Linked DNA regions of Homo sapiens: region 1 is linked to region 2. The links come from fine-mapping of genetic effects on gene expression. A gene starts in region 2. The other region holds a variant in brackets. All regions are shown on one strand. Distances are between the middles of the regions. Region 1 overlaps ETV4 (ETS variant transcription factor 4). Region 2 holds the start of DHX8 (DEAH-box helicase 8).

The links. PIP is the estimated chance that this variant, and not a neighbour inherited with it, causes the effect.
Region 1: its variant is fine-mapped to the expression of DHX8 in whole blood (TOPMed, PIP above 0.99). The same link has a PIP of 0.9 or more in blood mononuclear cells, lung and nasal epithelium.

What each region holds. Positions count from the first base shown.
Region 1 is chr17:43,522,666-43,537,775 of GRCh38, reverse strand. ETV4 (ETS variant transcription factor 4) reads left to right here. Exons shown (of 13, transcript NM_001079675.5): 5 at 1,297-1,350; 6 at 3,791-3,917; 7 at 4,428-4,589; 8 at 4,837-5,102; 9 at 7,595-7,669; 10 at 7,824-7,892; 11 at 8,100-8,272; 12 at 8,540-8,641; 13 at 9,033-9,930. The coding sequence ends at 9,257. It overlaps DHX8 (DEAH-box helicase 8), which reads right to left. Exons shown (of 23, transcript NM_004941.3): 23 at 12,106-14,148. The coding sequence ends at 13,929. Among named protein-coding and RNA genes, the nearest start is that of ETV4, 16 kb to the left of the region's middle. RefSeq lists an enhancer at 8,640-9,181 and a silencer at 11,641-11,935. The variant C/T (reference allele first, on the strand shown) is at 8,433.
Region 2 is chr17:43,476,706-43,491,815 of GRCh38, reverse strand. DHX8 (DEAH-box helicase 8) reads right to left here and starts at 7,841. Exons shown (of 23, transcript NM_004941.3): 1 at 7,631-7,841; 2 at 2,282-2,367; 3 at 1,353-1,425; 4 at 566-651. The coding sequence starts at 7,778. It overlaps LOC124904112 (U7 small nuclear RNA), which reads left to right and starts at 5,358; the gene lies at 5,358-5,418. It also overlaps the pseudogene RPL29P31. RefSeq lists enhancers at 7,577-8,006, 7,306-8,148.

The DNA of each region.
Region 1 (15,110 bases), 46 kb before region 2:
TGATCCGCCCACCACGGCCTCCCAAAGTGCTGGGATTACAGGCATGAGCCACCATGCCCGGCCTTTATTTTTCATTTTTTGGAACAGAGTCTCACTTTGTCACCCAGGCTGGAGTGCAGTGGCATGATCTCAGCTGACTGCAACCTCTGCCTCCTGGGTTCAAGCAATTCTCCTGCCTCAGCCTTCCGAGTAGCTGGGATTACAGGTGCCCACCGCCACGCCTGACTAATTTTTTAATTTTTTAGTAGAGATGGGAGTTTCACTTTGTTGGCCAGGCTGGTCTCAAACTCCTGATCTCAAGTGATCCTCCCACCTCAGCCTCCCAAAGTGCTGGGATTACAGGCATGAACCACTGCGCCCAGCCACCCCCCTATGTGATTTTATTTATTATTTAATTTTATTTTTCTTTTGAGATGGAGTTTCACTCTTGTTGCCCAGGCTGGAGTGCAGTGGTGCGATCTCAGCTCACTGCAACCTCTGCCTCCCAGGTTCAAGCGATTCTTCTGTCTCAGCTCCTGAGTAGCTGGGATTATAGGCTCCCGCCAACACGACCAGCTAAGTTTTGTACTTTTAGTAAAGATGGGGTTTCGTCATGTTGGCCAGGCTGGTCTCGAACTCCGGACCTCAGGTGATCCACCCGCCTTGACTTCCCAAAGTGCTGGGATTATAGGCGTGAGCCACCATGCCTGGCCGCCTCCTATGTGATTTTTAAATCCACAGGATCCCACTGCTTATAATGCCTGCCCATCCTAGATATGACTGTTGTGAGCTTTAAGGGAGTTTTGTAAACTCTGAGGGGCGAGGCTGTTTCACTTCAGAAAAATGGAGGAAATAAAGACAAAGCATCTAGAAGAAGAAAGACTGGAATCTGCTCAGACAGGTTCTGAGAACAGTCTTCCCTCCTGGGTCTTAGTGGAGCCCAGAGGTGGAAGACACTAGGACCTAGGGTGGAGCAGCCTTTAGTCTCAAGCAAGCTTGTCCAACCCGTGGGCCTGTGGGCCACTTTCAGCCCAGGGTAGCTTTGAATGCGGCCCAGGCCCAACATAAATTCCTTGTAAAATTTCTTAAAACATTATGAGATTTGTTTGTGATTTTAAGTTCATCAGCTATCGTTAGTGTTAGTGTATTTGTGTATTTTATGTGTGGCCCAAGACAATTCTTACAATGTGGACACCCCTGATCTAAAGGCTGTTGGTCCTTTCTTGGCTGTTGCTAATCTGCAGGGCTGTAATAATGGAGCCTCCCAGGGGACAACCAGGGCTCCGCCCCAAACTCACCTCTGACTTCTCTCTGCAGCTCAGGTACCAGACAGTGATGAGCAGTTTGTTCCTGATTTCCATTCAGAAAACCGTGAGTAGAGGTCCCTGGGGAGAGGGTATAGGGAGTGGAGGATGGCAGGAAGTGAGTCATAGGATAGAGAATCACAAGAGAGCAGCTTGTTCTCTCCTAAAACACAGTGGGGTTTGATCTTAAAGACCAAGGCAATAACTGGAATGAAAACCTTGGTTGAAATCTGGGGCTTGACATGTTCTTGCTGTGTGACCTTAGAGCAGACACTATCCCTCTGGTTCTCCATTGCCTTATATCTGAAGTGAGGGGCCTGGGCCAGTTCAGCAGAGTCCAGTTCTAGTGTTGTTTGTTTGTTTGTTTGTTTGTTTTCCCCCCAAGACAGAGTCTTGCTCTGTCACCCAGGCTGGAGTGCAGTGGCACAATCTCGGCTCACTGCAACTTCCGCCTCCCGGGTTTAAGCCATTCTCCTGCCTCAGCTTCCAGAGTAGCTGGGATTACAGGCATGCACAACCACACCCAGCTAATTTTTGTATTTTTAGTAGAGATGGGGTTTCACCATGTTGGCCAGGATGGTCTCGAATTCCTGACCTTGTGATCCGCCCACCTCGGCCTCCCATAGTGTTGGGACTACAGGCGTGAGCCCAGTGCGCCCGCCCCCAGTTCTAGTATTCTAAGTCACTTCCATAAACTGGGGACAATTTTGCCTCCCAAGAGACATTTGGTAATATCTGTAGACATTTTTGGTTGTCACAGTTGAGGGTGGGGTGCTACTGGTGTCTAGTGGATAGAGAGGCCAGGGATACTGCTAAAAGCATCCTATGATGCTCAGGACCGCTCCTTACAATATTATTAATAAAACACTATCTGGCCCACAGGTCAGTAGTGCCACTGTTGAGAAACCCTGCTTTAGGCTGGGTGTGGTGGCTCACGCCTGTAATCCCAGCACTTTGGGAGGCTGAGGCGCGTGGATCACATGAGGTCAGGAGTTTGAGACCAACCTGGCCAACATGATGAAATTCCGTCTTTACTAAAATACAAAAATTAGCCGGGCATGGTGGCGTGTACCTGTAATCCCAGCTACTCAGGAGGCTGAGGCATGAGAATCGCTTGAACCTGGGAGGCGGAGGTTGCAGTGAGGCAAGATTGAGCCACTGCACTCCAGCCTGGGTGACAGAGCGAGGCTCCATCTCAAAAAAAACAAAAACCAAAAAACAAACCCTGCTTTAATGTCAGATACTTTGCTGTCAACTGTCTTCACCAGTGAAACAATGGGGCACAAAGAATCAAAAACAGCAGAGAATAGTTGGTTACAAACGGCATTTGACTGGACTGCGGTTAAAACTGAATCTCACACCGGCTTGGAACCAACTCTTTGCTGCTCAGCCTCGTGGCCAGAGTTTGGGAACCCCGCAGGGGCCACAGGAAAGGCCAGTGTTCTTCACAGATAAGTAGGAGCATGTGTATAATGTTAGTCAGCTGACATTCAAGTGGGCCAATATCCAACCTCAACCAGAAAAAGAAAGATTCTTTTATTTATTTATTTAGAGACAGAGTTTCACTCTTGTTGCCCAGGCTGGAGTGCAATGGTGTGATCTCGGCTCACTGCAACCGCTGCCTCCCAGGTTCAAGCAATTCTCCTGCCTCAGCCTCCCGAGTAGCTGGGATTAAAGGGATGTGCCACCACGCCCGGCTAATTTTTTTGTATTTTAGTAGAGATGGGGTTTCTCTATGTTGGTCAGGCTGGTCTTGAACTTCTGACTTCAGGTGATCCGCCCGCCTCGGCCTCCCAAAGTGCTGGGATTACAGGCGTGAGCCACCGCGCCCGGCCAAGAAAGATTCTTTATATCCTCAAATAAGAAAACATGTCACTCCCCTGGAATTTTCCAGGGCACTCAGGAAAACTACAGGCCCTAGGTTGGAGGTGCTCACTCCTTGAAAGTGTTTTCTGGGGCCTGGGGTTGCATTAAATGTTTTTGTTTTTTGTTTCTTTTTGAGACGGAGTCTCGCTCTGTCACCCAGGCTGGAGTGCAGTGGCATGATCTCGGCTCACTGCAATCCCCGCCTCCTGGGTTCAAGCAATTCCCTTGCCCCAGCCTCCTGAGTAGCTGGGACTACAGGCATCCGCCACCATCCCCGGCTAATTTTTTTTTGTATTTTTAGTAGAGACAGGGTTTCACCATGTTGGCCAGGCTGGTCTTGGACTCCTGCCTCCCAAAGTGCTGGGATTACAGGTGTGAGCTACCGTGCCCAGCCTAAATGTTGAACTTTAGATGGTTTATTTAGTCAATAATCAGACACTAGTCTGATGTATAAACTAGACATAATGTAAATAGCCAAAATGTTCTTGTCTCACTGCGGGTCTCAGAAAATTGATACCCAGAGAGGGAAGGAGGCTGTACCAGTCACCCAGCTGGTCCTCAAAGCTCAGAAGGTATCAGAAGCCCTGCCTGCCTCTTGTGTGACAGGCTCTGGCCTTGCTCTGTCCCCTCCACCCCCACAGTAGCTTTCCACAGCCCCACCACCAGGATCAAGAAGGAGCCCCAGAGTCCCCGCACAGACCCGGCCCTGTCCTGCAGCAGGAAGCCGCCACTCCCCTACCACCATGGCGAGCAGTGCCTTTACTCCAGGTGAGCCCCAGCCTGGACCTGGTGAAGGGTAGGAGAAGGGTTCCAGAGGAGGGAGGCAGGGGGCACCCATGAGCAGAGGCAGCAGCTGAGATGCAAGTTAGACAACAGAAAGGATTTTCTAGCACTTGTAAGGAAGCAATACAGCTAAGGATTTCCTCTGAATAGACGGAAAACGCAGCAGAGGGCCTCAGGAATATATACTGAGGCCAGAGCAGATTCTGTTTCCACCAAGAGGCCCACTGTCCCACCTAAACCATTGCTCTGAGCAACAAATCCCCCCTGTATGAATCCCAGGGGTTCAAGACTAGCCTGGGCAACAGAGGGAGACTGTCTCTGAAAAAGAAAAGAATTGGCTAGGGCTGAGTCTGTGGCTCCTGCCGTTCCCTTCTCAGCCCCCTCTATCCTTCCTTCTCCTGTAATCCCTGTGACCTCGCTTTCCTAGGAATGAAGGGTTCAAAGATGCTTTCCAGCTTCTCTGCCCCCTCACCCCTGTCTCCTTCTCAACTCCAGTGCCTATGACCCCCCCAGACAAATCGCCATCAAGTCCCCTGCCCCTGGTGCCCTTGGACAGTCGCCCCTACAGCCCTTTCCCCGGGCAGAGCAACGGAATTTCCTGAGATCCTCTGGCACCTCCCAGCCCCACCCTGGCCATGGGTACCTCGGGGAACATAGGTAAGGAGACAGGGAAACCCACTGCTCATGGGCCCAGGTGTTTTTTCAATTCCTGAGTGTTCTCCATAAAGACTTGAGCTGTGGGGTGGTAGAGGCAGGGGGCAGTGGAATAGAAAGGGAGAAATACTGACACCCCAACCCCCTACCCCCCATTCCGGAGCCCACTCTAAAAGCCTAGGAGTAACAGGCTCGAGGAAGGATTAATTTAAAGTTCTCTTCTCTTCCTTCTCCATCCAACCACATCCAGCTCCGTCTTCCAGCAGCCCCTGGACATTTGCCACTCCTTCACATCTCAGGGAGGGGGCCGGGAACCCCTCCCAGCCCCCTACCAACACCAGCTGTCGGAGCCCTGCCCACCCTATCCCCAGCAGAGCTTTAAGCAAGAATACCATGATCCCCTGTATGAACAGGCGGGCCAGCCAGCCGTGGACCAGGGTGGGGTCAATGGGCACAGGTACCCAGGGGCGGGGGTGGTGATCAAACAGGAACAGACGGACTTCGCCTACGACTCAGGTAAGAGACTGGGGTGGGGCAGGGTGGCATGTGATCAAGTGTTCAGTTAAGCCCAGAATGTCTCCCGAGTTTTTTTACATTGCTGTTTACCATTTCATACATCCAACCCACCCACCCACTTTTTTTCTTCATAATTTCAAAAGAATGTTATTTTTCTTTCTTTTTCTTTTTTTTTTTGAAATGGGGTCCTGCTCTGGCCCAGGCTAGAGTGCAGTGGCACGATCTCTGCTCACTGCAACCTCTGCCTACCGGGTTCAAGCGATTCTTGTGCCTCAGCCTCCCGAGTACCTGGGATTACAGGCACCAGCCACCGTGCCCGGCTAATTTTTGTATTTTTAGTAGAGATGGGGTTTCGCCATGCTGGCCAGGATGGTCTCGAACTCCTGACTTCATATGATCCATCGCCTCGGCCTCCCAAAGTGCTGTGATTATAGACATGAGCCACCTCACCCGGACAAATTATTACTTTTCAATGAGCAAACCTATATTCAGATTAAAAGATAAGGGGGGCCCCCGGGGCATGGTGAGTCATCTGTAATCCCAGCACTTTAGGAGGCCATGGCAGGAGGATCGTTTGAGCCCAGGAATTAGTTCAAGGCCAGCTTAGGCAACAAAGTGAGACCTCGTGTCTATTTATAAAAAAGTAAAATTAAAATAAAGGGGGATGTAGATCCTGCCCTCAGGTAGCTTGTGACTTAATAGGGAAGTTAAGGCATTTATTTCTATTTAACAGGTGTTTGAGGTTTTAATTACCTATTAAGACCAAACTACTGTGACAGGAACACGAGTGTGCAGAGTTGGGAAATACAAAGATGAATAGGATGTGTCTGGTCCCTATCCCCACAGAGGCTTAAAAATACAAAGGGATTTGAATGAAGAGAAACATGAATTTGAAACTAGCCAGGCTCATGGTTCTTGCTAGTTCTCAATAGGAGGGCAGGGTTTTCTTGTTTTGTTTTGTTTTGTTTGTTTTGAGACAGAGTCTTGCTCTGTTTGTTTGTTTTGAGATGGAGTCTTGCTCTCTCGCCCAGGCTGGAGTGCCACTGGGTTCAAGCGATTCTCATGCTTCAGCCTCCCGAATAGCTGGGGTTACAGGTGCCCATCACCATGCCCAGCTAGTTTTTGTATTTTTAGTAGAGACGGGGTTTCACCATGTTGATCAAGCTGGTAGAAGCACAGGTTAATATGTGGCTTACATATTTGAGCCTCCCAATTGATGTATGCCCTGGCCAGAGGCAAGGGCAGAGGAAGTAGGGACTTCTTTAAATTCTAGTTCCACCTGGCTGTTGACTGGAGTGAGATGCACTCACCTGTGTTCATAAATAGCTATAGTTCAAAGCCTCAAGGGCCGAAGGAGGGCCAGTCCCAGGAAGGGTCCAGAAAACCCTGCCTTTTCTTCTTTCCTCCTGGCTTTTGTTACATTAGTAGCCCTAGATCTGAGTTTATTAGAGTAGGCCCAGAGCTAGCTAGAACTTTAGAATTTCCCTTTTTGTGGTGCCCACAACCGTTCAAGGGCAGGGGGATGAACCACAACCCCCCAGGCTGTCCAACTAAGAACCGGATGGTGCTCCTGTCCTCAAATCCAGGGCATAAGCCTGAGCCAGGCTTGGCAGTGAGCTGGGGAGAGGAGGAGGGAGGCACTCTTGCCGCTGACCTTCAAAGGCTGTAGACCGGAGGGGATTGTGTTACATGCCCTTGAACTCCTGCCCCTCCCCCCAGCTACTCCTGAATGGAGTCAGGAATTCCATTCACAAAATGGAGGCATGAATGAGCCCACCCTCCCGCCTCCTCCCGGAGGTGTCATGTTTCACCATCTTCTCATTCATAGGTGGGAGTGCAGTGGGGGGAGGGCGGGAAGGGGTTGGAACTTGAACGGGTGGCTTCACACAGCCGCCTTCCCGATGTGGAGTGGGAAGGTTCCTATCCTATGGAATGGAATGAAACGAAGTGGAATGTGCTCTGTTAGACCTGAAAAAACAAGGCCCAGTGCCCACTGCCTCTTCCCCAGGTGCATGCAGGCGCACGCTCTGTTTCTGTCACACACACACACACACACACACACACGCGCGCGTGCACAGGGCTGGGAACCTGACCTGCTGACCGGACATTTTTGTCCATTCTGAGGGAGTCTTAGGCGTGGACACCGAACTCTTTCCCCGGACGTTCATCTCACCCTCCCTCCTCCCCCTGAACTCGCAGGAAACAGCTGCTCCCTGGCAGCTTGGGCCCTTCAGAACAGCTTGCCCAGCCCCCGCTGCTGCCTTCCATGGCCTCAGCCGCAGCCCTCAAGTTGAGGAGGGGTTCCAGCATCACACTCCCTCTGGGTGAACTTTCCCTGGGATTTTGTGGTTGGCAGGCAACCTGGGCAAAGAACAGTCACCAGGAAGCAGGCTGGAAGGAAGAAATTCTTGAATGTGGATAGGACTTCCTCCTCCCCTGCCCTCGAGCTCCACCCCAAGCCACTTCTCACATCACCCCTTCTTCCCCCACAGATGTCACCGGGTGCGCATCAATGTACCTCCACACAGAGGGCTTCTCTGGGCCCTCTCCAGGTGACGGGGCCATGGGTAAGGCAGCCCCCCTTCCCCTGCCAAGCCCTCCATGTTGGGGGAGGGAGCGCTGCCATGGGGGAGGGTCTCCCTGGCCAGGAGTCCCTCTGGACTCTCTGGGGTCTCATCGGTGAACCCCCAGATCTGAGCAACCCCCAATTTCCTCCACAAGGCTATGGCTATGAGAAACCTCTGCGACCATTCCCAGATGATGTCTGCGTTGTCCCTGAGAAATTTGAAGGTCAGAGAAGTGACTGTTGATGGGAGGGTCAAGGTCTTATCACGCTGTGTCCCTGCAGGAGTCACATCACGTTTCATTGTTGCAAGAGGGTGGGACCCATAGAAAAGTACCTGGGGAGACCCCTTCGAGAAATCCCTCGGGTGGGAGGCGGTTGCTTGGGGGACCAAAAGACACAAACCCCACACCTCCTATTTTCGTGTTCCCCAGGAGACATCAAGCAGGAAGGGGTCGGTGCATTTCGAGAGGGGCCGCCCTACCAGCGCCGGGGTGCCCTGCAGCTGTGGCAATTTCTGGTGGCCTTGCTGGATGACCCAACAAATGCCCATTTCATTGCCTGGACGGGCCGGGGAATGGAGTTCAAGCTCATTGAGCCTGAGGAGGTGGGCCTCTCGGATGTTCCCAGCCCTCCTTTCCAAAGTTTACAGCCTGGAGGTGGGAGAACCTGGGAAATGGTGGCACGTGCCTCCATCATGATTCTTGCTTTACCTAACCTGAATTCTTGCCAAGCCTAAGTCTGTGGGCTGATGCTTTGTTGCAGAG[C/T]TAGCTTGGCACTTTGCACCAAGAATCTCAAGTGCTCTTTCTGACCTTACCCCCATTTTTTCCTCTGCCAAGGTAGCATCTCTACCCCAAAACTGTTTTGTTCCCAGGTCGCCAGGCTCTGGGGCATCCAGAAGAACCGGCCAGCCATGAATTACGACAAGCTGAGCCGCTCGCTCCGATACTATTATGAGAAAGGCATCATGCAGAAGGTGGGGGCTGTGGGTCTAGGGACAAGGTGGTGGGGGGCAGTGGCTGTGAGAAGCTGACTGGGGAGAGGGTCAGCAGGGCAGTTCTCAGCAACTTTGTAGGATCAGATAATGAATCAGTCAGAGAGACAAGAAATTGTGGAGAATCCCAAGGTTCTCCTCCCCCAAAAAAGTGCAACACTGTAACTGAGAAGCCCAAGCATGGAGAAGTTGAGATGAAAAAGGAGTAAGAACTGTGAAGGGAGAGTCAGCTTCTCAGGAACCAGCATGGGAGAGAAATGCCCCGAGCATCTGCCTGTACTGGTAGAAGGGCCACATTCCCCACTCCCCCACCTTACCCCATACAAAGGCTGGGCGGCTAGCCAGGCTGACCAGACCTTCTCTCTCCCCATAGGTGGCTGGTGAGCGTTACGTGTACAAGTTTGTGTGTGAGCCCGAGGCCCTCTTCTCTTTGGCCTTCCCGGACAATCAGCGTCCAGCTCTCAAGGCTGAGTTTGACCGGCCTGTCAGTGAGGAGGACACAGTCCCTTTGTCCCACTTGGATGAGAGCCCCGCCTACCTCCCAGAGCTGGCTGGCCCCGCCCAGCCATTTGGCCCCAAGGGTGGCTACTCTTACTAGCCCCCAGCGGCTGTTCCCCCTGCCGCAGGTGGGTGCTGCCCTGTGTACATATAAATGAATCTGGTGTTGGGGAAACCTTCATCTGAAACCCACAGATGTCTCTGGGGCAGATCCCCACTGTCCTACCAGTTGCCCTAGCCCAGACTCTGAGCTGCTCACCGGAGTCATTGGGAAGGAAAAGTGGAGAAATGGCAAGTCTAGAGTCTCAGAAACTCCCCTGGGGGTTTCACCTGGGCCCTGGAGGAATTCAGCTCAGCTTCTTCCTAGGTCCAAGCCCCCCACACCTTTTCCCCAACCACAGAGAACAAGAGTTTGTTCTGTTCTGGGGGACAGAGAAGGCGCTTCCCAACTTCATACTGGCAGGAGGGTGAGGAGGTTCACTGAGCTCCCCAGATCTCCCACTGCGGGGAGACAGAAGCCTGGACTCTGCCCCACGCTGTGGCCCTGGAGGGTCCCGGTTTGTCAGTTCTTGGTGCTCTGTGTTCCCAGAGGCAGGCGGAGGTTGAAGAAAGGAACCTGGGATGAGGGGTGCTGGGTATAAGCAGAGAGGGATGGGTTCCTGCTCCAAGGGACCCTTTGCCTTTCTTCTGCCCTTTCCTAGGCCCAGGCCTGGGTTTGTACTTCCACCTCCACCACATCTGCCAGACCTTAATAAAGGCCCCCACTTCTCCCATTAGTTCTCCTGTGTCCTCTTTGCTGCCATGTGGGAACAGACCTGGGGGTAGAAAGAGCTCTGGTCTTGAAGCAGAGCTGACTGGTTTGGGGCCAGGCCCTGGCGCTTAAATCCTCATGTAGATTTGAAAAAAGGCAGTTCACCTGACTGTTTCTCTTCTGAAAAATGGGCTTAATGATACCTGCCCTTCCCCCTTCCCAGCATTACTGTGTGAGGATCCAGAAATAATGGACAGGGGGTACTTGATAACCTGGACAGGCGCCCCTTGTGCACTTTGGGCCTGCTTCCAGCAGCAGTCTCCCTGCCCCTGTGGGCGGGTCAGGTGGGCTACTGAGTGGCAAGGGTCTCCCTCCTGGGACTTCCTCAGACAGGGTTTTGGTCTTTGGTTTCTGTGATCCCAGTTGTTCCCATGACCCTGCTGTCCCACATAGACCCCAATTGCATGTCCTCCCTCCTACCTCAGCTCTAGGTTGCTACTTTTGCTGGGGTTGGGGACAAGTGTTTGTCTGGAGAATGGGGCAAAGGAGAAAGGCTCCCAGGCCAGATGGTACAGAGAGAGGCTAGAGCAGGCCCTGGATTCTGGCCAGTGGAGATTAGATCTTCCGGGGAGTGGGAAACACCTAGATTCTCCTTGCCCAAATTTGGGAGAGATCAGAGTCCTGAGGCTGAGTTTTTTGGGGGTAGGTAGAAATGGCAAAGTGGACAACATGGTGACACCTATGGAGGACGTATGACTGAGATGTGACAACAGGTGGGAGGGGCAGAATGGGTGGTTCTAGAGCCAGCTGCTATGTAAACCGCTGCCCAGGAGACATGCTCAGGTAAAAACCGGTGCTCTCCTGTTAAATAGAAACTGCAGCTGTGCTGAGGTTGGGCCAGCCCAACTCTGTTCATGTCTCAGGTTGGCCCAGCACCAACCTGAGACCATCCCTTGCAGGAAGGGATGCCCCTCGACTACTACCCACAAATAAAAGGCAACATTACTTCTTCCTAGAAACACAAAATATCAATGTACTGACATAATTTAGTGCAAGAAACAAAATTTTAAAAACAGGTTTTAAAAATATATAATTTAATTCCACATTAAAGCCAAGCTATCGTGGTGGGAAGAAGGTGTAAAAATCGGTGGAAACCCTGAAGGCCGAGTACACACACGAAGAGAGAGGGAGTTAGCTGAGAAGCAGCATCCAGGGAAAGAAAGGTCTCCACAAGCTGAGATGATGGCCCTCTGCCCTCTGAACTGTTCATTAACAAGTCACCAGTCCCAGTTCTTTGTTCAAATCCTCAAACTTGGAGAGGCACTGCTCCAATGAGACAGCTACAGCAACCACAGGGAGGAAGTGCTTTGGGCTGCAGGAGAGACAGTCAAAGCCAAATCACGTCCAGGCGGGATGAAGTAAACCTGGACCGAGGAGCCTGACCCAGCTGCGGAGCTCACACATGCCCCATAGGGACGGTCCTGCCATATACACAAACAGCACACTCAGCATGTGTGCAGAGGCAGGCAACTCCTGAGCTTGGTTCTCGCGGGGTGGGGGTGAACAATATACTTTAATGGCCAAGAAGATCCCAGCTCTCTGCATGAGACCCACATCCTCTCCTGGGCTGTCACTCAATCTTGGGAAATACTGGTTCAAGGAAGAGAAACAAGGGCTCCATTGTGTGAGAGCAGCAGGCAAGCTCCCCTTCTGCATCTGGACAGGACCCCCCCCTTCTCCCTCAGAGCAGGCTCAGCTCAGCTGCTGACATTGCTTTCCTGATGGTCAAAAGGTCAGAACCCAGCTATGTTGTCATAGCAGAGAAGTGACCTCAGCTCTAGCGTAGAGAGATGGTCAAGGAACACCCACAGAATGGGGATCCTTCTTTTTCCTCCACCTGAGCCAGAAAAGATAACGAACCCTGCTGTCTCTTATCCTTAGCCCATTCAACATCCCTTTTCAACCTCAGCTTGAAACCCAACCCTCCCTCCCCAGGTGTCAACATTGTCAGTGCTGGGCACTCAGTCAGGACAGGCTGGGCCACTATATCCAGGAGTGTTTCTGAATGGGGAAAATTTAGGCTGGAATTAGGACTGGGAGCCAGGTGTGGTGGCATGCACCTGTAGTCCCAGCTACTCAGGAGGCTGAGGCAGGAAGATCACTTGAGCTCAGGAGTTTGATGCCAGCCTAGGCAAGATGGCAAGATCCTGTCTTAACAAAAACAAAAACAAAACGAGATTGGGGAGGTGGGTGCCCAGTCCCCGTTTCCCCTTTGGTTTCATTTGAGGTCCCTGTACTGTCTCTCCCCAGAAGGCCTTCAAGGTTAACACACAACAATGCCCTGCCCCTTGATTACTGGCCTGGGCTTACAAAGGCGAATACTCAGACAGAATCAGGAGGCACTCAGCTTAATGAAGGGGCAGGGATCTGCAGCCAGCAGATTGCCTGGCCTATATTCCTCTCCCTCGGACTCTTTCTGAATTGTCTTTAGGGTGTGGTTTGCTGCCCAGTGACAACATACATTCCTTTATATCCTGGAATGTTACATAGTCTCTCTTAGTGTCTGGCATACAGTTCTACAGTAGTTCTAGCATTTACATCACTTCAGAACTTACTAATAACATAAGGACAGGAGAAGCAGCAACGTAACAGGATGTGCCCAATCTCTCAGAAGCTTCTCTACAAGCACTACATCCAGACCAGCTTTCCGTAAGTTCCGAAACCTGGCCTGGCAAGACCTGCCTGATGTTCCGCCAGGTAAGGAGCCTCCTCAGTGCAGAGGACAGTGGCTCTCAACTGTAATCCCAGCGCTTTGGGAGGCAGAGGCAGGAGGATTGCTTGACGCCAGGGATTGGAGAGCAGCCTGGGCAGCACAGTGGGAACCCATCTCTATGGGAAGAAAAAAAAAAAACCCTCCTCAGGAGCTGTGAGGAGGGCACAAGGAGGTGGCTATTCTCCAAGCAAGTGCTAGGAAAAAACCACTAAGAACAAGCCCTGCAGCACAGATACTGGCAGCACAAACCAGCTGAGAGGAGAGGTGTTATGTTTGTTTTCTGTTTGGAGTGGGGAAAGGGAGGTTTTGACCATAAAATCCCTTTGTTAAAGTCCATCCAGGACCTCAGGGGAAAAAAATAAAAACAAAATAAAATAAAAGCTGTGTTGTTACTTAGTATGTTTCAAAAGGAAATGGGACATGCTGCACATTGCGAATGTGGGAGGTGGAGGGAGCAAGGGGAAACCTTCTGTATTTAATATGTGCCATCTGTAGCCACTCAGGCCTCCAGACTGAAGTGCTCTGTGGAGAGGACATGGTTGATCATCGGGTGATCCCCCAGCACGGCCCGGCTAGTGCTGATGCTGAAAGACAAGGCTGGAAGTCTGGGTTGTACGTCGTTTCCGAGCGCAAAGAGGCCCTGCGTTCTGGTTTCAGGGGATTCAGGGGATTCTCATCATGTGTGCCAGAGCACAGATACTAAATCTCCCTCACCCTGAGCCCAGGCCAATATCCTAACCTTTCGGCTAAAAGAAAACAGTCACAGAAAACCATTTTTGTTTCCTTAAGAAAATAAATATTTCCACGAGGTCAAGCCAAAGTACAGGGGCTGGAGACGGGGTGGGAAGTGGGGCAAACACTTTAGATGAGCACAGTAGCTCCTGCTAGCTGGGGCATCAGGGCACTCACCATGTCCCTGCACAAGATGCTCACCCACTCCACCTTCCCATCCTGGAGCTGCACAAATTGTCCCTTTCTTGAAGTTGATGCAATGTGTCTCTGTGTTAGATATGAGCTCCCAACTGGGCCCAAGGACTTGGGGTGATGGAGGCTGCAGGCTCTTGCCAAAGCCAGGTTTAAATCCCTGTTTCTATTTTACCAGCAGGGAAGAAATGAGAGTCGAGTTGAGAAAATGCTCAGTTAAGACAGTCAGTCACGGGACAGCTGTATCCTCAGGACCAGCCTGTCATCGATAAGTCCAAGCCCTGGCTACTGCTGCTGGAGAGGCAAAGGAACAATCTTGCCTTTCAGCGCCGTCGGAAAGCTCGAGATATTCTCCAGGCATTGGGTTCCTCATAGCGGTTGTACAAGGGTTCAAGACGCTGTTGCTTCTTCTGTTTGCTTAGCTTAGTTGGGTCTGAGACCTTGAAGAAGGCTGGGGCAAACTCCACAAGCCACCGAGGGTCGATGGTGGTAACTTCACGCATGTATTCCTTGGTGGTGAGCACCAGCTCATGGTACACCACCCTGAGGGGGGACAGAGATAGTACTCAAGCCTCTGGATATAGGCCCCACTCTACAGTCAACCTGGTCCCTAGTAGGCCTCAGCTGAGCTTACATTTTATACTATTACCTCTCCTGCCTGACACCTATAAGACTGCAGTCTGTTTATGACAGCCACACCCCAATACTGAAGCACCCGCACACCTCTAACCACAAGAAAGGTCTCAGGAGAATGTATTCTAGTCCTGGCTCTGGCTCTAACTAGTTAAGTGACATGGAGCCAATCACATCCCTTCTCTAATCTGTTTCTTGCTCTATAAAATGTGAGGATGTTTATTAGAATGTTTCCACAGAATTCTAGGGCTCTGAAGAGGGGCCTCACACTGCCACAAGGGATGGAGAAGGCCAAACATGCAAGGAGCCACATTTCTAACCCTTCTACTGTGATAACATGGTGGTTTTAAATCAGTTTTATATTAGGGTTCTAGATAGAGTCCAATTTTTTAAAAATGCTACTTTAAAACAAGTTTTTTTTTTTAAACTACATCACTAGGTAGTTGTTTTTTTCTTTCTTTTTTTTTTTTTTTTTGGGACGGAGTCTCACTCTGTCTCCCAGGCTGGAGTACAATGGCACAATCTCAGCTCACTGCAACCTCTGCCTCCCGGGTTCAAGCTATTCTCATGTCTCAGCCTCCCAAGTAGCTGGGATTACAGGTGCCTGCCACCACGCCTGGCTAACTTTGTATTTTTAGTAGAGACATGGTTTCACTATGTTGGTCAGGTTGGCCTGGAATTCCTGACCTCTGGTGATCCACCTGCCTCGGCCTCCCAAAGTGCTGGGATTACAGACGTGAGCCACCATGCCTAGCCCCTAGGTAGTTGGTTTTTTTTTTTTTTTTTTTTTGAGATGGAGTTTCGCTCTTGTTGCCCAGGCTGGAGTGCAATGGGTGATTTCGGCTCACTGCAACCTCCACCTCCTGGGTTCA
Region 2 (15,110 bases):
TAGCCCTTATTGCTATCTGCTATGTTACATACCTATTTGTTTGTTTATTGCCTATCTCCTCCCCACCAGAATGTTTACATGTTTATTTCCTGCTCCCTACCCCAAAATTAGGATATAATCTCCAAAGGCTGAAACTCTTGTCTGTTCTGTTCACTGCTGTTATCCAGGTACTTAGAACAGTGTTTGGCATACAGTAAGTACTCAATAAATATTTATTAAAATGAAATTTAAAAATCAAAATGCTTTAAAAATTAGACCTTTAACAAGTAACAGAGCAAAAAAAAAAAATCTAATTTCACACCTTAGGCATCTGTTCCAGAACCTTATTTCATATTCCTAATCACTACTTCCCCAAATTCCCAATCTCATTTCCCTTGAATATCATTCTCAGAACCCCTTAACAAATTCAATACATAGTACATGCTCAGGGAGTGATCAAACACTTTCATTCTTAAAAATAAGTTACAACAAAGGCAAACTTAAAATTAATAAAATTACTATGAGACAAAGAAAAGGGGTTGAGAATATATATTTATAGTAGACACTCTTAAAATGGTATCAGTACCCGAACAGAAGGGTTGTCCGGTTGGCAAAGGACTGGGAAGAGTTCCTTCAGCTTTTCTTTTTCTGTTTTAGGTTTAACAACTGGATCTTGTTTCATTAAAGAGCATGAAGGGGTTAAAAAAAGAGATATATATTTAATATTATTAATGATTAACAAAATAACTTCAACAATAGATTTGTATCAAACTGAAACAGAACATGGCATTTTGCTATATATTAATCATACCTGTTACTATAAATGTAATTTAATTTTCTAAATACATTGATCACAAACTATCTCGAAATGTAGCAGAAAGAGGAGTGTAGCAATACTCATTGGGTTATGTCTTATCTTTTTTATTTTGTCTTAAGTCGTTTGAAATTTTTTTTCCCCTTGAAACGGGGAAAAAAACCTCTGTCACTCAGGCTAAAGTACATTGGTGCAACTATGGCTCACTGCAGCTTCACCCTTTTGGACTCAAGCAACACTCCTTCCTTAGCCTCCCAAGTAGCTGGAACTACGGAGGCACGCCATCATGCCTGGCTAATTTTTTTATTTTTTTGTAGAGATGAGGTCTCTCTATGTTGCCCAGGCTGGTCTAAAACTCCTGGGCTCAAGTGATACTCCCACCTTGGCCTCCCAAAGTGCTGGGATTCCAGCAGTGAGCCGCTAGGCCCAGCCCATTTGAAAAATCTTACTGGAACATTTACTTGCTCAGCAACTGCTGAGAGGAAAACAAATGCAATTTACAGGATGTTCAAAACCTACACCATTCTAGAAGCTAAGCTCAGCTGGAAGCTCTGCTTACCTTTGCTAGTGGAAGGCTTCGCTGGAGGCCGCATGGTTTGTATGAGACGCAGCAAGTTACTAATAAGAGAATCCTTTGAAAAGAAACATAGAACGAAAATTGTCAGCTCCCATATCAGTGCTTAAATACACTTAAAAGGCAAAGAATGTCCTGTAGGGAAGGGTGGTTACGCACTTGAATTTAGCTAATTGGAATACATGAAACATAGTGTGTCAACCTGGTGTAGCATGAACCTAGTATAATAGCTTCAGAGAAAGCCGATATTTAGGACTCTTTGGGGAGAAAAGTTATTAGGCTCCCTGCAACCATTTTATTTCCCAAGGTTTAGAACTACCCCCAAAACTTGTTTCCAACTTCCTGACTCACAGAACAAGAATGTAAATACCTACAAAGACTTAATGATGAAAATCCTGCCCTGTTTTCCTAGAGGTATCACAGAAAATCTGGTTAAATCATCACTACTTAATGGCATGAAAACATTACACACTTAATGGCTTATTTAATTGATATGTATAAAATTGTCTCCTTCCTATATCAAAATCCTATATTAAACCCTATCAAAATTTAAAATCAATAGTGACATTAAAACATAAATTATGTAATCCCAGCACTTTGGAAGGCCGAGGCGGGTGGATCACGAGGTCAGGAGATCGAGACCATCCTGGCTAACACGGTGAAACCCCATCTCTACTAAAAATACAAAAAATTAGCCGGGCATGGTGGCAGGCACCTGTAGTCCCAGCTACTTGGGAGACTGAGGCAAGAGAATGGCGTGAACCCGGGAGGCGGAGCTTGCAGTGAGCTGAGGTGGCGCCACTGCACTCCAGCCCAGGCGACAGAGCAAAACTCTGTCTCAAAAAAAAAAACAAACAAACAAACATAAATTAAAACATTAATATCTACAGATTATCTTCTCCACATATACATACCGTAAATTCTGCACCATTTTTGACGAGAGAAGCCTTAAAAGTATCAAAGGTGGTATTTTTCTCAGCAAGACTGATCACAAATTCAGCTGCAAATAAGAAACAGAATTCAGAAAAGAAGAGACATGAACAAGAAATCAGTTTCAAGTATGGTGAAAACAAAACTAATTAGGTTATCCAACAGTAATAAAAAACAAAGACCACCATCTGGTAAGGGTAAAGAGAGAAAATCTGGCCAGGTGTGGTGGCTCATGCCTGTAATCCCAACACTCTGGGAGGCCAAGGCAGGCGGATCACTTGAGGTTAGGAGTTCAAGATGAGCCTGGCTAACACAGTGAAACCCCGTCTCTATTAAAAATACAAAAATTAGCTGGGTGTGGTGGCAGGCACCTGTAATCCCAGCTACTTGGGAGACTGAGGCAGGAGAATCACTTGAACCCGGGAGGCAGAGGTTGCAGTAAGCCGGCATTGCGCCACTGCACTCCAGCCTGGGCAACAGAGTGAGACTCCGTCTCAAAAAAAAACAAAAAAAACAAAACAAGAAAACAAGAGAGAAAATCTAGACTGCTGAAATTATCCACACATATTCTAGAGAATTTATACAAATGAAAGGAAGATATTACTACAAAATGGCTCAATGTAGCCCTTGAGTGCATTTAAACTAGGAAGACCTATTTGACCCACATCATGGTACCCTCTTCTCACAAAACCACTACCTGGGCACGCTGCCACCTAGACTAGACTGTAAAGGTGACAATAAAAAGCATGAGCCCATGTAGACACACAGAGGCACACAACAGAAGGACAGACCCAATCTGTATATGAGGGCCAGGCAGCTGCTGGGTGGTGCAATCTCCACATTGATGAAAGACTTTTTTGCCAAATTTTTCTCCACAAACCTGCCTAGTTCTTCTTTTTTTTTTTTTTAAGACAGAGTCTGGCTCTGTCGCCCAGGCTGGAGTGCAGCGGTGCGATATCGGCTCACTGCAACCTCCACCTCCCGGGTTCACGCCATTCTCCTGCCTCAGCCTCCCGAGTAGCTGGGACTACAGGCGCCCACCACCACGCCTGGCTAATTTTTTGTATTTTTAGCAGAGACAGGGTTTCACCATGTTAGCCAGGATGGTCTTGATCTCCTGACCTTGTGATCCACCCGCCTCAGCTTCCCAAAGTGCTGGGATTACAGGCATAAGCCACTGTGCCCGGCACACCTGCCTAGTTCTTGAAACTTTCTTTTTTTCTTTTTTTTTTCTTTTTTTTGAGACGGAGTCTCGCTCTGTCGCCCAGGCTGGAGTGCAGTGGCGGGATCTTGGCTCACTGCCACCTCTGCCCCCTGAGTTTAAGCGATTCTTCTGCCTCAGCCTCCCAAGTAGCTGGGGCTACAGGCGCATGCCACCATGACCGGCTAATTTTTATATTTTTAGTACAGACAGGATTTCACCATATTGGCCAGGCTGGTCTCGAACCCACGACCTTGTGATTTGCCTGCCTCGGCCTCCCAAAGTTCTGGGATTACAGTCATGAGCCACCGCACCTGGACTTTTTTTATTTTTTCATTTTTTTTTAACAGTCTCACTCTGTCTCTCAGGCTGGAGTACAGTGGTACGATCTTGGCTCATTGCAACCTCCGCCTCTCGGGTTCAAGCAATTCTCTTGTCTCAGCCTCCTAAGTAGCTGGGATTACAGGTGCCCTCCACCACGCCTGGCTAATTTTTGTAGTTTTAGTAGAGACGGGGTTTTGCCACATTGGCCAGGCTGGTCTTGAACTCCTGACCTCAGGTAATCCTACTGCCTCAGCCTCCCGAAGTGCTGGGATTACAGGCATGAGCCACTGTGCCCGGCCTAGTTCTTGAAACTTCTAATATTAGAGCTATTTATTAAGCTACTTTCAGACAGTGGCTCACGCCTGTAATGCCAGCACTTTGGGAGGTTGTGGTGGGCAGATTGCTCGAGCCCAGGAGTTAAAGACCAGCCTGGGCAACATGGCAAAACACCATCTCTACAAAAAATACAAAAATCAGCCGGGGGTGGTGGTATGCATCTGTAGTCCTAGCTACTCGGGAGTAGACTGAGATAATAAGCCTCATACTATGAGACCCACAAAAAAACTGTAATGCTTTCATTTGAATGCTAATCCTAGAAAAGTAAATGAATAAATAACATGAAAGATCTAGATGACTAACTCATAAAGTAGTACTACCATACAATTTCCATCCTGGAATGTGCCTTTATCTTTCTGATAAAGTGAAAGCCAAATGCCATCAGGCTACACGAACACATCTTATGCATAATAAGTTAGTAACGATAATGTCAATGGTTAATACTTTTTGAACATTACTACGTGCCAGGCACTATGCTAAGTGCTTTTTATGGGTTACTTCATGATCCCCAAAACAACCCTCATAAGTAGGTGCTATTATTGTCATGTTTTACAATGAGGAAGCTGACGGTTTGAGACACTGACCTACCCAATAATAACTGGGGGGAGCTAGGAATAAAACCCAGGCAATCTAACTTCAGAGGCTACATTCTTTCAAGAAATGTGGAGGGAGAACTAAGTCCCATGGTGCTAGGCATGTCATGCTCAAAAGAGCCCCTCCCAAAGCAGTCTGAAGCACATTCTCACTGCCAGCCATCAGTAATCTTTTTTTTTTTTTTTTTTGAGACGGAGTCTTGCTCTGTCACTAAGGCTGGAGGGCAGTGGCACGATCCTCTCACTGCAACCTCCCCATCCCAGGTTCAAGTGATTCTCCTGCCTCAGCCTCCTGAGTAGCTAGGATTACAGGCGTGCACCACCACGCCCTGCTAATTTTTGTATTTTTAGTAAGACAGGGTTTCACCATGTTGGTCAGGCTGGTCTCGAACTCCTGACCTCGTGATCCACCCGCCTTGGCCTCCCAAAGTGCTGGGATTACATGTGTGAGCCACTGCGCCTGGTCCCATTAATCAGTATTTTTAATTTTCACAATTATACAGGGGAATTGTTAAATTAACTGAATCCATTATAAAAAATTAATTTATAGTTTAAAAAAATTCATTGGTGAAAACAGTAAAAATAACACTAATTTAAATGATAATCCAGTATTACAGTTCTTTTAGAATTTGTCTAGCAGGTTTTCCAGTTTTCATCGGAAACTCTACTATCTCAACTCTCCCAAAAATTAAATACATAAATTAATAAGTCATCCATCAGGGTCAAAAGCAAAAGAATCAAGTCAGCAAACAAAACATAAAAGAAGCAAATATATGCCTTTCTGTTATTAAACCCAACTCTGCCAATTTAGTTTCAACAAAAGACACTGTCTATTGCATTAAACCAATATTAGTACTTTTTTTTTTTTTTTTTGAAATAAAGTCTTGCTCTTTTCGTCCAGGCTGGAGTGCAGTGATGTGATTTCAGCTCACTGAAACCTCCGTCTCCTGAGTTCAAGCGATTCTCCTGCCTCAGCCTCCTGCATAGCACCAGTCACCATGGCCAGCTAATTTTTGTATTTTTTTTTTTTAGTAGAAATGGCGTTTCGCCATGTTGGCCAGGCTGGTCTCAAACTCCTGACCTCAGGGGATCGGCCTGTCTTGGCCTTCCAAAGTGCTGGGATTACAGGCGTGAGCCACCAAACCCAGCCAATGTTAGTACTTTTAATGTTACTGGTTTTATAATTCTGTATGTAACAGAAAAAGCATATTTGTGGGTTTTCTGCAAATTAATTGAGATCTTTAGCTATAAATAAACTAAAAGATTATGAAGTTTATACTTCGCTCTATTTTTGTACACAAATGAAGTTAACATCAAAACAATTAAACACTGGGGGTTAATGTCAATAACTTTTTTGTTTCTTCTAAAAGGCCAAGGTATTAGGAGTTAAAATGAAAACAGAGAGAAAGGTAAGCTCCCTGAAAGCAGAAATCTGTCTTGTTCTCTGTGGTATGCCTAGCCCCCAGCTCAATATTTGCTGAATAAAGGAAACATATTAACGAGATAGCAAAACCGACGAAATTATCACCTCATTATCAACTAAAAGAGAAGAATCCTGCGGGAAAAGTTATATAGGACAGACACATCTTGGCTGGGAGGCAAGAGAAAAAAGTAAACTAAAATATACTGGCTGCAGGGCATCTTCCTAAATGCTATATGGTGACCCTGTGAAGACATCGTCCCACTTCACAGATGAGAAAAACAGCTTCAGAGAAACTATGAATCTTACCAAAGGTCACTCGTCTAACTTCCCTAACCCCTCCTGTCACCTGCCCCTTCCCTTCCATCCCTCCGGTTGATGACTTTATCTTCATTTAGGAAACTGAAGAGTGGGCTGGAACTCTCTCACTCATCTTCCCACCACCAATCTCTAAACTCATCTGAATCTGCAACTGTATTCTCTGTCCTCGCTCCTGTTACAACTGAAGAAGCCTTGCTGTACGTACCAAAGGTCAATCCATCCATTGGTTGCCCTTGATCCCATCCATCCTCTGTACCTTCATAAAGGCTCCATCTGTCTATGGCTTTAGCTTTAGGACCCTAGCCTTTTCTAATTCCTCAGTTTCGGCTCCCCAGATGTAGTTTGCCCCAAAACATCTAGTGACTGGTGTTTAAGACATAGTACAGGACGCAATGGCTCACGCCTGTAATCCCAACACTTTGGGAGGCCGAGGGAAGAGGACTGCTTGAGCCCAGAAGTTCGAGACCAGCCTGGGCAATACAGTGAGACCCCCGTCTCTACAAAAAATTTAAAAATGAGTCGAGCTTGGTGGCGCCCGCCTGTAGTCCCAGCTACTCGGGAGGCTGAGGTGGGAGGACTGCTTGAGCCCAGGAGGTGGAGGCTGCAGTGAGCCGAGATCGTGCCACTGCACTCCAGCCCGGGAAACAGAGCGAGGCCCTGCCTCAAAAAAGAGTACAGGATGAACGGTCAAAGAACACAGTTAAAAGCACAGACGCTAACTACTATGTCACAGAGTGGCGTGAAGACCAAATAAAATAATGTCAATAAAGAGCTGAGCATCGCATCTAGCACATAGTGAGCACCCAATAAACGTCAGCCATCATCGTCGTCATCGCAGCATCTGCTGCTGTTGTTGTTAAACATGTTTAATTGAGGCTGAAAAAACAAACAAAAAACAATCAAGCAGAGATGACCGCCCCGGGCTTCACTGACAGCTCTGGGAAAGTTTCTAAAGTTTCTCGAGGGCTCTCAAGCCGAGGCCACGGCAGCGTGTACCCTGGGCACCGGTGTCTGCGACAGAGAGAGACAGATTCACACGAACATACTTTCGGTCCATCAACCACCTTTCTCCTTCCTCCTTCCTCCTTCCGCTTCCCTCAATCCCAAACTGAGGTCCCAGGGACCTCCCCGAGCTCACCAAGGTCCTTGTCGTTGATCCCCAAGTGATTGTCCAGCTCAGTGCAAACCTTTGACACCAAAGACAGGTACTCGAGTTTGGCAAGTTCTTCCGCGGGGCCTGGCTCCGACCCGATTAAGGCTCCCGCCATGGCTACAGCCACAGCCATGGCTATAGCTTGCCCAGAACCTCCTTCCTCACAGCCGGCGCTCAGAGCTACTCCGGCCGGGTTCCAGCTTTCACTTCCGGGTCAGCGCGCGTCCCCTTTGTTTACGGTAAATTGAAAATTTGAGGAACGAATCAAGTCCCAACAGGATGGATCATAGAGATCAAACAGGAAGTGCTTAAGGAAGGGACAACTAGAGTGGGTTACTCTGCACGCCGATCTGCGCCCTCTACAGGCGAGAAAAATCTCCGCCCGCCCTCAGGCCTGGAAACGTTCACTCAGCGCGCTCCCGCCCTGGGTCGGCAGAGGGCGACCCCGGCCTGCACAAGAGGCGCCGGGAGGCAACCGCAAAACAGCCTGCGCCTGCGCTTTAGAACACTTGAAAAAGGAATCTTAATGCACGTCTGGAAAAAGACAAACTTGCTTTACTGTGGATCCGCAAATTCCCGGCCTCACTTCTTTGTGGTTCCTGTCGTCCGATCTCAAGTGACCCTTGACAAGCCAGTAGGCAGTAGATTGCCTTCTCTTGTTTTACACACGAAGAAACTGGCACTTCCACTGCCAGCTGGCTGCTTGGGCAAATCAATCTCTGGGGCCTTAGTTTTCTCATCTGTAAACTAGAATAATGTTGCTCTACCCTAAATGGAATAACTGCAAGGAGTGTGACACAGAGTAGGCACACCGCAAATGACAGTTACTGTTAATATCACAAGGCTAGGCCGGGTGCAGTGGCTCACGCCTGTAATGCCAGCACTTTGGGAGGCCGAGGCTGGTGGATCACTTGAGGTCAGGAGTTCCAGACCAGCCTGGCCAACGTGGCGAAACTCCATCTCTACTAAAAATAGAAAACTTAGCCGGGCGTGGTGGTGGTGGGCGCCTGTAGTCCCAGCTACTCGGGAGGCTGAGGCACAAGAATCGCTTGAACCCAGGAGGCAGAGGTTGGAGTGACCTGAGTTCACACCACTACACTCCAGCATGGGCGACAGAGTGAGACTTTGTCTCAAAAAAAAAAAAAAAAAAATTCAAGGCTGAGATGATGGTCACAGAACTGGCCTCTGGTCTGTCAAGCACAGATCCCCTTAGTCTGGGAACCCACAGAGCCAGCTGCCTCCACTCTTGTGAAAACCTGCTTTTCAATCCCCAGTTTTCCTGTGTCCTCTCAGAACTTATTCCCCCAGGGGCTGGGCACTGTGGCTCACCCCTGTAATCCCAGCACTTTGGGAGGCCGAGACGGGCGGATCACTTGAGGTCAGGAGTTCAAGACCACTCTGGCCAACATGGTGAAACCTCGTCTGTACTAAAAATACAAAAATTAGCTGGGCGTGATGGTATGTGCCTGTAGTCCCAGCTACTAGGGAGGCTGAGGCGGGAGAATTGCTTGAACCTGGGAGGTGGATGTTGCAGTGAGCTGAGATCTCGCCACTGCACTCTAGCCTGTGCGACAGAGTGAGACTCCGTCTCAAACAAACAAAACACACACACAAAAACAACAACAAACCTTATTCCCCCAAATATCAGCTGTGCTGTAAGTCCAAGGTCATAAGCTCAGGTCTCCCAACTTCTGCTTCAGGTCTTTTTTACCTTTGTGGCAACCTTAATGTGGGATGGGGATTTTTCCCACACTCCAGTGCTCTGTGTGATGAGTAAGGAAACAGAAGCACCCTAAAGTGAATGGCTCTCCAATCAATCGGAAGGAGGAAATCAGTCTCCCACTTTTCACTTTGGCAACATTTTTACACTGGTGTACCTTTGGACTCTGTTTCTTCAACATCTCATCATGGACTGAAAAATGACAGGCAGAGAAAAACCCAGCCATTGTTCTCACTGTCTCCAGAAGCTCCAGGTTTCCAGGTTCCTAAGGAATCACTACTAAACCCTCTGAGTTCTTCCTACCCCTCCCCATTTCGCTTCCTCTTTCTCCCCATGAATAGAATGGAAAACTCTGCACTTGATCCAATGTGCTCAATTTGCCAGCTTGGAGTTACGATTTCAAGGGCTTATTCTATCTGATGTTCATTCTCTGTGCTTCTTTCTCTTTAAAAATTAATATTACTATTCTGCTTTCCTCCAATATTTAACCGGAAGGAGGAACAGATAGGGAGTTTGTTTTGTTTTCAAAGCTCTGTCAGAATAGGGGCTATGGAACCATAACATGTAGCAGCAGTAGTAGCAATAAATACTAGAATTAATAAATACTAAATGTTAGAATTGTTTGGGAATTATTGAACATATATATCAATAGTAAATATTAACAGCAAAACATTACATTTTATTTAGATATGCCATTAACTGCACATTTTAAGAAGTGACAGTTTTTCTGCAATATACATATTTCTTGCAACACCAAAAATTTCTTTGAAGCCAAAGGAAAACAAATAGTTATGTAGATACAGATAACTTGACAGCCCAAACACAGATGCACATGGAATCCTCCTACTCTTCCTCCCCATAAGAGACCGTGAATCGAACGCAGTGCAAAAGTAAATGTTTCCGAACTGTCCTCTGGATAGAATATTTTTCAACATAATATCAGATATAATTAATTTTCATTATTAGGTCGGGTGCAGTGGCTCACACCTGTAATCCCAGCACTTTGGGAGGCTGAAGCAGGCAGATCGCCTGAGGTCAGGAGTTCGAGACCAGCCCGGCCAACATGGTGAAACCCCGACTCTACTAAAACTACAAAAATTAGTCGGGCGTGGTGGCATACACTTGTAGTCCCAGCTATTCGGGAGGCTGAGTCAGGAGAATTGCTTGAACCCAGGAGGCGGAGGTTGCAGTGAGCCAAGATCACGCCAATGTACTCTAGCCTGGGCGACAGTGATACTCTGTTTCAAAAAATAAAATAATAATAATAAATTTCCATTATTATTGTATGACTTTCCTTGGACAGCCTCCATGTGGCCCTTTAATAGCCCAGTAAATAATTTACCTCTACATATAACTTATGCTCATACTACCCATATCACCACTCATGATGGATAAGAAATTATTTCCTGATACCAAACTTGTAGTAACAGGGATGTTACTTTTCTGCCTGTTCCTAGACTTATAGATGTGTTTAACCCTACCCCCGATTTCCATGTTATTTCTGCTCTGTCCCAGAGACTGGTCCCAGCTGCTGGAATTTGGGAAAGAACTTGGGGGTTGGGATGAGGTAGAAAGCAGAGAGAAAGTACTGAACCTCTTAGCAACATCAGGTTGAGTTGGTAAGGGAGAAGAAATTATCTAAGTACGTGTAGCTGAAAGACAGCATCCTTAGGGAAGTTTGTGAGAAAAATCATAGGGCTTTCTGTCAAAACAGTGTTGCCACAACCCAGACAACCCTGGCCTTTTCTGCTGGGGTAAAATGGATCTTAGGGGAGACATCTCTGCTCTAGGAGGCAAAATCAGAATGGTTTGCTTCTAAGCATATGACTACCACTCAACTGTTACTGTCATTCATGCAGGGAGACTTCAGAAAGAGTGGCCCCTTCTTCCCTGCTCCACTTGGGCCCTGACCCAACCAGAGAGCCTGGGAGCCCCCAGAGAAAGTAAAATTCCTTATTTTTCACTGTTTGACTTTTCCCCAGAATTCATCTCCAAATTTGGACCAACTTATTAAATTTGTATTAAACTTCAACCTTGTGACCAGGCACTGTGGCAGGTTCTAAAAAGGATAGGAGGTCTGAAAGTGGAAAAACATCAAGGAAGAACTAGAATACTCTGAATGCCATTCTCAGCCAAGGGGTCTCCTGGCAGAGCTGTGTTTATAACTTAGATCTCTGCTGCCTAAACATGAGGGCAGGTGATTGGAAGACAGAAAAAAAAAAAAAAAAGCTGGTCTGTTTACCGTCATCTGAGGGCAGGCAGATTGGGGTTGGAGGGCAAGTCTACTTCACAGGGCAGTTTATCCTGTTGCAATCTGTTATTTGTTTGCCTTATTTTCTAATACCCAAGCGCAGCCTCATTTTTGCGCAAAACATTCCTGACCTACAGTTCCCTCTCTTTTTAGGCCATCAACCTGCCATCAGCAATAACAGATGCTTTAGATTCTAAATTCTCCAAGGCTTTATAGTATTAGGCAAAAAAAAAAAAAAAAAAATGTTCTTCCTAAGCAGATTTTTTTTTTGGTATAGTCAAGTTTCCCATTTCTCTTGCATTTTAAGACTCTTCAAAATGTCAGGCAAAAACAAACACAAAGCCAGGCACCCAGACACCATTATGATATGAACTTGTCAAGAAAATGGTATTCCCCCATCTCGGCCTCTCCACCTTCTGTGGAAATGGCAAGGAATTTTTTCATATTTATTTATCAGTTTTTCATCTTTTTTCTTTTTTTCTTTTTTCTTTTCTTTTTTTTTTTTTTTTTTTTTTTTTTTTTTGAGATGGTGTCTTGCTCTGTTGCCCAGGCTAGAGTGCAGTGGCACAATCTCGGCTCACTGCAAGCTCTGCATCCCGGGTTCACACCATTCTCCTGCCTCAGCCTCCTGAGTAGCTGGGACTACAGGCGCCTGCCACCACGCCCAGCTAACTTTTTGTATTTTTAGTAGAGACGGGGTTTCCCGTGTTAGCCAGGATGGTCTCGATCTCCTGACCTCGTGATCTGCCCGCCTCAGACTCCCAAAGTGCTGGGATTACAGCCATGAGCCACTGCGCCAGTTACTCATCTTTTAAGCGACCTTGATTCAGGATCTAGTTGGTATTTTTTAGACTTAGTTTAGGTTGATTTTATTTAAAAAGAAAAACACTGGGCTGGGCACGGTGGCTCACCCCTATAATCCCAGCACTTTAGGAGGCCAGGGCAGGCAGATCACCTGAGGTCAGGAGTTCGAGACCAACCTGGCCAACATGGTGAAACCAAGTCTCTACTTTAAAAATACCAAAATTAGCCAGGCATGATGGTGGGCGCCTGGAATCCCAGCTACTCGGGAGGCTGAGGTAGGAGAATCGCTGGAACCTGAGAGGTGGAGTTTGCAGTGAGCCGAGATCGTGCCATTGCACTCCAGCCTGGGCGACAGAATGAGACTCTGTCTCAAAAAAAAAAAAAAAAAAAATGGCCAGGCATGGTGGCTCACACCTGCAATCCCAGCACTTTGGGAGGCCAAAGTGGGAGGATTGCTTGGGGCCAGGAGTTGGAGACCAGCCTCGACAATAAAGCAAGGCTCCATCTCTATTAAAAATAATAAAGAACAAGAAAACAATTTTAATCCATATTATAAGTATGAATGACAAAGTGACAAGTTACACTGGGCTTTTTCTGTTTTCCCCCTCCCTAATGATATTTAGCCTCTGCTCCAGGGTACTAGGGATTTTTGTAGTATCTGGTTTCTATTTGAGGTAATTTCTTCAGAAATTAATAAGGATTTCCTCAGGAGAAATGCAAAAACAAAAACCAAGACAAACCAAGGAATGAGTTGATGGGAAAAGATGAGAGAAGAGGAACTGAAGTTCTGAAGTTCTGTTGATGTTCTGTTTGCAAGTCAAACATGTCAACAGCTGGGCAGTGTGGGCTGTGCAGTGAGCCGAGGGCCAAAGCTCTGTCTTAAGCCACAGGCTTGCCACTAACACAGAAGAAACTGCTCCTCCAGGATCTCCATTTCTCCCAAGTAAAGGATAATGGGCTCCGAGCACACCCTCCACCCCAAATCTAAGAGTGTCCTGGCAGAACCAGCCATATGCAACTCTTTCCCCAGCTCTCAGGTAGAACAGCTTTGGCGGTACAAATAGCTGCTGCCCTTGTGCCAGAATAGCAAGTCCCTTCGTCTTGGGATTACAGTAATTATGGTGATTTATGCCTCCAGAGTGAAAATTAGCAATCTGGTGAGGTAACTAAAAATGAATGCATCTCTTCCCAGAGTTCACTCCACCCAGCTGAGCCACCGAATAAAACCAGCATATGGGGCAATTAGAGAGCCAAGTGCTGCTTTCAAAATGCAGTATAAAGAGACAGAGTTCAGGGGCCCAGGTTCCCCTGCCTGGTTCAATAATGATCACAAGTTCCTAACAAGCGTCCTCTTTGCCTCACAATACCATGCCAAGTCTGAGTCCTCCCGTAAACACCAACCTGCAGTTGTGTCTTTCAAGCAAAGTAATTTGTTCCACGACATCACCACTTTACCTTTTTTAAATTATTATTATTGCAAATTGACTGAGGGAGGGGAAAGGGGGAAGTGAGGATAAACCTCTATTACATGGATACGTGTGAAGCAAAGGTTTTTTTTTCCTTCTTAGCCATACATTTGCTTTTATGTGACACAGACTCTGATCTTACCTAACTTCCACAGTCTACTATCAAATACTGGTGACAGTAGAATTTATATTAAAAGTTTTGCTGGGCATGGTGGCTCATGCCTGTAATTCCAGCACTTTGTTTTATTTATTTATTTATTTAGAGACAGAGTCTCGCTCTGTCCCAGGCTAGAGTGCAGTGGCACCACCATGGCTCACTGCAACCTCAACCTCCTGGGCTCAAGCAATCCTCCTCCCTCAGACTCCTGAGTAGCTGGGACTACAGACATGTGCCATCATGCCCAGCTAATTTTTGTAATTTTTGTAGAGGTGGAGTCCGTGTTGCTCAGGCTGGTCTCAAACTCCTGGGCTTAAGGGATCCAACCACCTTGGCCTCCCAAGGTGGTGGGATTACGGATATGAACCACCACACCCAGCCATTCTTAGTACTTTGGGAGGCTGAGGCAGGAGGATCCCCCGAGGCCAGGAGTTCAAGACCAGCTTGGTCAACATAGTAAGAACCCCCGTCTCTACAAAAAATTTAAAAATTAGCTGGGCATGTAGCTCATGTCTGTAGTCCCAGCTATTTAGGAGGCTGAGGCCGGAGAATTGGTTGAGCCCAGGAGTTTGAGGCCGCAGTGAGCTATGATGTCACCACTGCACTCCAGCCTGGGTGATAGAGTGAGATCCTGTCTCAAAAAAAACAAAATTTTTTTTTGAAAGACATATAGGTCCAATAGTGATTGATTATCCTTATCATTGAGCACATGCAGAAATTCCTAAAATAGTCCAAGTCTATCCCCATGGACTTGGACTTGATGGGACTTCATATGTAACAAGGATAGATTGGGGTCACACTGTCAGCCACTTGGAAATTTGGATGTAAGTGCAGTATTCACTCATTCATATTTCTCATAGAGTTTTAGAGTTGAAAGGGGTTTAAGAGGTAATATAATCAAACCCACACATTAGATTCTATCATTATTTAAAGTGGCTTGACTTCTAAATCTCATTCTGTGAAATTCCCTCTGACCCAACTTATTCTTTTTCTTTTCTTTTTATTTTTCCTACCTCAGGTTTATTTGAGGACCCCAGCCCCGTGCAGATGGCAGCCCGGGGGGTATC